Linked DNA regions of Homo sapiens: region 1 is linked to region 2. The links come from fine-mapping of genetic effects on gene expression. A gene starts in region 2. The other region holds a variant in brackets. All regions are shown on one strand. Distances are from middle to middle. Region 1 overlaps ADCY3 (adenylate cyclase 3). Region 2 holds the start of ADCY3 (adenylate cyclase 3).

The links.
Region 1: its variant is fine-mapped to the expression of ADCY3 in tibial artery (GTEx, PIP above 0.99). The same link has a PIP of 0.9 or more in whole blood.

The regions. Positions count from the first base shown.
Region 1 is chr2:24,858,992-24,861,890 of GRCh38, reverse strand. The region is part of intron 3 of ADCY3 (adenylate cyclase 3); the gene reads left to right. Among named protein-coding and RNA genes, the nearest start is that of ADCY3, 60 kb to the left of the region's middle. The variant A/G (reference allele first, on the strand shown) is at 1,450.
Region 2 is chr2:24,918,999-24,921,897 of GRCh38, reverse strand. It overlaps ADCY3 (adenylate cyclase 3), which reads left to right and starts at 1,661. Exons shown (of 22, transcript NM_004036.5): 1 at 1,661-2,215; 2 at 2,714-2,899. LOC124907742 (a long non-coding RNA gene) reads right to left here and starts at 1,554. Exons shown (of 2, transcript XR_007086246.1): 1 at 1,326-1,554; 2 at 440-900. RefSeq lists silencers at 1,107-1,196, 1,207-1,416, 1,457-1,516, 1,547-2,276.

The sequences.
Region 1 (2,899 bases), 60 kb after region 2:
CCATGAAGCCCTTTGGGGCTCCAAGATGCCGTCACGCTGGCCCCCAGCCCCTGGGGAGGCACCGGCTGAAGTCAGGGTGGTGAGGTAGGATGGGAGCTGGCTGGGGCCTGTGCATCCTTCCCCTTCTCTCTTCCAGCCAGGACAGAGGTCACTCCCTCCCAAGGCATTGGGGCTGACGTTGGGAGTGGCGTGGGCTCTGGGCTGATTTGACGTTTCAGAAACATCAGCTGACGGGTCTTCGGAGCTGAGTGCAGGCCGGTACTAGAGGCTGCATGACCCCGTTTCACTTTCCTCCTGTAAAAGCTCCTCATGAGAATAAAAATGAGATAATAGATGGAAAAACACTTTGGAAAGGGCCGCAGACAGTCCTGGTATGAGAGGAAACAGAACCTGGTTTGGAAGTGGCTCCAAAGAGCCATTTGAGGTCAGTGTCAGAGCAGGCCATCCCTTACTTACATGTGTGCTTAATGTCTTTTTTAAGAAAATTCTCCATTTAAAAAAATTATGAGTGTCTCCTATAAAAACAATCGTTAATCTACCCTCTGCAAAAAAGGGGCCTCCTTCCAGAATTGAGTGCCCAGGGTCCATGTCTCACTTTTTATTTGGTCAGGTGCTCTTATCTTTTTTTTTTTTTTTTTTTGAGATGGAGTCTCACTCTTTCGCCCAGGCTGGAGTGCAGTGGCACGATCTTGGCTCACTACAACCTCCACCTCCCAGGTTCAAGCGATTCTCCTGCCTGAGCCTCCCGTGTAGCTGGGACTACAGGTGCCCACCACCACACACAGCTAATTTTTGTATTTCTAGTACAGACGGGGTTTCACCATGTTGGCCAAGCTGGTCTCAAACTCCTGATCTCAAGTGATCTGCCTGCCTTGGCCTCCCAAAGTGCTGGGATTGCAGTCGTGAGCCCCATGCTCGGCTATTTATCTTGTTTTCTAAGCTGCCTTAAGAGTGTGCGGCTGAAGGGCAGCCCTGGCCATGTGGCTGTCCCAGCAGGTGTCTCCTCGCTGGGCCTCAGCTTCCTCCTCTGCTGTGAAGTGAGGTGTAGGGATGCGCTGGTGACCTGAGCCCGCTCTCTCTCTTGCCATCCCCTGGGAAGTTGTACCTTCTGTTATGAAGATGACCAGCCTCCTAATGACAGTCAACTCCCAGATGGGTGGGCAGCCAGCCATGGTCCAGGAGGGTGAGGCGGCACAGTCCCTCAAGCACAGGCATCCCTTTCTGCCTCCTCACTGGGGTGAGCATGTCCACATGTCAAAGGGTGCATTGAGGCAACAGAGCATTTGGGTAATGGCAAGGGTCTCAGATTCCAGTGGCTTTGCTGCTTTAACCTCCCTGGCTCCAGTCTCCTTCAGGGAGGTAGTGGAGCCTGCCCTGCCCTGAGGCCTTGTGGATTTGGAGCTCTTGGTGCAGCCCTGGCATGCGAAGCGTCCTCTTTGCCTCTGCCGA[A/G]CACATATCTGGCTTCGCAGGCAGTGCCATGGCGCTTCCCTGTGGTGCGGGGCCGCCAGGGTGCATGCTGACCTTGGTCCAGCCTCCCGGCTCTGTGGGCATGTGAGGGTAGAGCAGGAGGCCCAGAGGACAGAACTGGAGTTGTTTGTCTTTATTCCCATGTGACCACACTTCAGGGGTTAGTTGGGGACCTTGAGGGTTGCTAAGCACCCCAGCCGCCACCTGGCAACAGGCGGCACCCAGAAAACCCACTCAGCACACACCTGCTGCCAGGTGGAGCTACAAAACTGAGCCTCTCTGAATCATACTCAGAATCACTTCCCAGGGATCGGAACATGGTTGACGGAGGATGTGGGAAGATGGAGGGATGACAGGGGCAGGCCTATGCTTCCTTCACACGCGTCCTGTGTGGTTAACTGGCCCTGTGCCTGGTCCTCCCTCGGAGGTGAGGACTGTCCACAGTGCCCACCCTCAGACAGGAGGATGCTGCAGCCAGGGCACGTAGAGGGAGAGCCCAGGGCAGACTGCACAGGGTCTAGGGTAGAAAGCCATCCCCATCTTCACCCTTGGGATCCTGGGGAGACAGCTGAGGTGGACGCTGGGTGGGTTTCCATTCAGGTCTTGGGGGACTGCACAGAGACACAGCTGCCTCTCCCCACCTCTCCTTCTGCTTTAACCCACGTGCAGGGTCACCTGTTACTAGGGATGGTGTTTTTCCTTCATGCCGGTCTTACAGGGAAGAACCGCCCATTGACCACAAGCGTCAGGCCCCTCTCCTGGGAGCCCCGGAGCTTGGGACACTGGGAGGCTGCCATTTCCTAAGCTTGGATTGTATCTCTTGCTTTTCTGAATGTTCTTCCTCTGTAACCTTTGCCCAAGCCTGGTCACTGTTTCCCCCAAGACCTTTTGCTATTAGGACAAGGTGTCATCAACCCTGAGCCCTGTTCTTATAGGCGCTTGGTAGGGGAGAGGGGAGTCAGAGCCAGAGGCCAGTTGCCTCTTGGCCTGGGGTTGGGCTTCTAGTGCCAAGCCCCACCATGCCACTGTTATCCTGGCAACAGTGAGGTCGGGGCAGGGGGACCACTAAGAGTGGGAAGAGGAGACGAAGCTGGTGTCGAGTGGGAGGGCTGTGCCTCTGCCTGTGGATCCATAGCTGCTCTGCGTCTTGCTCGTTGCACCGTGGCTGCATCATGGCATTCTCCGCGTCTAATGTAATGGGTCAAATCCATTGTCTGCTTCACAGGAGACACACAGACACGTCCCCACCCCCAGCATCAGCCTTGCATTGTACTCGCTATCTTCTTCACAGAACCACCCACAAAGATATCTAATATTTTTAGTTTTTCTTTTAGCCTCGAATGCCTCTCAGTGTGAGAAAAGCCAGGTGCGTTCCCCATAATGCGAAGTAGGCACTGGTCCTTCTGTTGGTTCCAACTCTCACCTCTTGGAT
Region 2 (2,899 bases):
ATAAATAAATAAATAAATGCCTTCCTTTTTAAAAAACAAAAACAAAAAACAAACCACAAATAACTCCCTCCAAAAAAAATCCCCCCCAAAACCCAAAAACCTCCAGCAAATTAAAACAATGGGGCAGCCCAGAGCAGTGGCTCATCCCTGTAATCCCAGCACTTTGGGAGGCTGAGGTGGGCGGATCACTTGAGGTCAGGAGTTCAAGACCAGCCTAGCCAACATAGTGAAACCCCATCTACTAAAAATACAAAAATTACCCCGGGCTTGGTGGTGTGTGCCTGCAATCCCAGGTATTCAGGAGGCTGAGGCAGGAGAATTGCGTGAACCTGGGTGGTGGAGGTTGCAGTGAGCTGAGATCACAACACTGCACTCCAGCCTGGGTGACAGAGTGAGACTCAGTCTCGAAAAAATAAAAAATAGAAATAAAATAAAACAATGGGGCAAAGTTTTGCTTTATTTAAATTACCAAACTCCTATATCTGATGTTAGGTCCCCTACCTTTGGAATCAAAGCCCTGCGAAGTATGGGCTGAAGGTGGCGCCTTTTCAGACAGAGTGTGAGGGAACGGTAGAAACAGCAGTGGCAGGATCGATTCTCTAATGGATCCATTCCCCGAGGGATGCAAGGTGATGCCTGAGGTTCTGGAAGGGGTGCCCGCGGATAACTCTCAGGGGCATGGGGTGGCAGCTCCATCCAGGGTCTGGATAGCCAAGTTTCTCTCCCCTCTGTTCATTCCTTCAGCTCTCCCCAGGGGAGATGACCCCCTATTGCTGCTGGCTGTCCTCAGCACTTACCTTCCCACACATGCTTTTGTCCCTTTTGTCCCAAAACATTCTATCTCTTTCCTCTTCCTTTATTTAAATTCCCAAAGCCTGTAGTTGATCTTAGCACGGTGTTCTGTCAAATGCAAGGAAAATAATTTATACTATGGTGTAAGAGACTGATAGGTTTAACTATTCAAAGGAGCATTCGCATCTTTAAGGGACAGTTTGTGAACTCAAACACATCTCAAACGGGTAGAATGTGCACGGGAAATCTCTTCGAAGCAGGGTCTCAGGAACTCTTCCAGTTCCACGTGTGTAGTGCCCACCGGGCCACCGCCACCCGCCTCCTGGGAGCAGGACAGGGCTCCGCTGCCGAGCCCCTCTGCGGAAAGCTCAGGCCCGGCGCTCCGGAGTCTGGGCTCCCGGGGTGGGCGGGGATACTTAGGCCCCACGTGCCCCGCGGCGGAGCGGTCCCCAAACCTGAGCCCTGGCCTCTGCCGGCCCGGAAGGAAGCCGCGGCGGAGGAGGGGGCGGCGGGGTGCCCCGAGCGCGCCTCACCTGCGGGCGGGCGCGTCCCGGGCTTCCATCCTCCTAGACCGGGCCTCCTCGCTGGAAGGGGTGGATTCGCCCCAGCCCTGCCGCCCACCGCCCACCGCCCACGCCCGCGCCCGCGCCCGCGCTTCCACGCAGCCATCGCCCCAGCCCGCCGCCCGCGCCGGATCGGGGGCCGCCCGGGCCCCTCCACCTCTCGCCCGCGCGGGTCCTGGGACCGCCGCCCGGCGCCTCCCTCGCCGCCCCACTCCGGAACGCGCCGCCGAGAGGGCGGAGACTGGGGCGAGGGAGGGGCCGCCCCGCCCGCCTCCCGCCTCCCGCCTCCCGCCTCCCGGGGCCTGGAGCGCGCGTGGCCCCGGAGCCGCCGGCGCCGCGCGGGGAATAGCTGTGCAGCACGCCGAGCCCGGACTCGGCTGGCTCGGCTCGGCGCGGGCGGGCGAGAGGATGCTGGCGGGCTTCCCCGGGCTCGGCCCGCGCTCCCGCCGGGGAGGGCCCCGCGCGCGCCCCTAGCAGCCGCCGCCGCCGCGGGTGCAGGGGAGGGGTCCGGAGAGCCGCGCTCGCCGCCGCCCGCGCCTGCCGGCCCCCGCACGGCCCCTGCCCCTGAGCCTCAGCCCCAGGGCGGGCGCGCTGGGCCGGCGCCCACGGATCTCCCAGCCCTCGTCGCCGCCTCCTCCTTCCCCCTGCGGCCGGGCGCCCGCGGATGCTGAGGGGCAGCCCTGCGCCTCTCCCGGTCGGATCCCGGGCCTGACGGCGGGAGATCGCGCTCCGGCCGGGCCCCGAGGCGCTGCCGGGGCGGCGCGGCTCTGCGGGGAGCAGCCCTCGGGCGCGCCGAGCTCTCCCGCCCCAGCCCGCGCGGGGACCGTCCCGGAGCACGCGGTGGCCGAGTTCCCGCACAGGTAAACGCAGGGGCAGGGCCAGGCTTCCGGGGGGGAAGACAGCGCCCCGAGCGTGGGAAGGGGGCCGGATCGGAGCCCGAGCCTCCAAGGGTTTGGTGGAAAAAGGAAGTAAACAGAAGGAAGGCTCAGGAATCCCCCACGATGGTCCTGATTTCTTTCCGGCACATTTTATTTACAGCTTCTAAGGACTGGGCCTGGAGGGAATTTAGGTGAGGAAGTCGGGGACTGAGAAAGAAGAGATGACAGAGAGAAACCGGTTACCAGGGATGGAAAGGCGGCTAGGCCCTTCCACAAGCCAGGGACAGGAAATTGAGTGTCTGGCGTGGACAGGACTAAGTGTGCCTGCGGTGGGCGGTGGTGTGAGCCGGGGGTGGCAGGGAAGGCCCTGGGTTGGGAGGCTCTTGCAGCAGAGATCCTTTTATGAGGGTTAGGGCGGGTCATGGGGAAACCGCAAGGTAGGAGGGAAGAGGTGCTTCTACTCAGCAATGCCCTTTTCAGTTCTAGCTGATCAGTGCTACCTGTGCTCTGGAAACCCGCTCTGCGTTCCTGCTGGAGGTGGCCTCCCCTCCGCCCCAGACAAGAAGAGGCCCTCAGCCCTCCCCCGGTCTCAGAGAGCCCTGAGAGGAGGCCCAGTCCAGAGCTCTTCCTCCGTTCCCAGTCCACTTCTCTAGGGCCAGTAGCAGA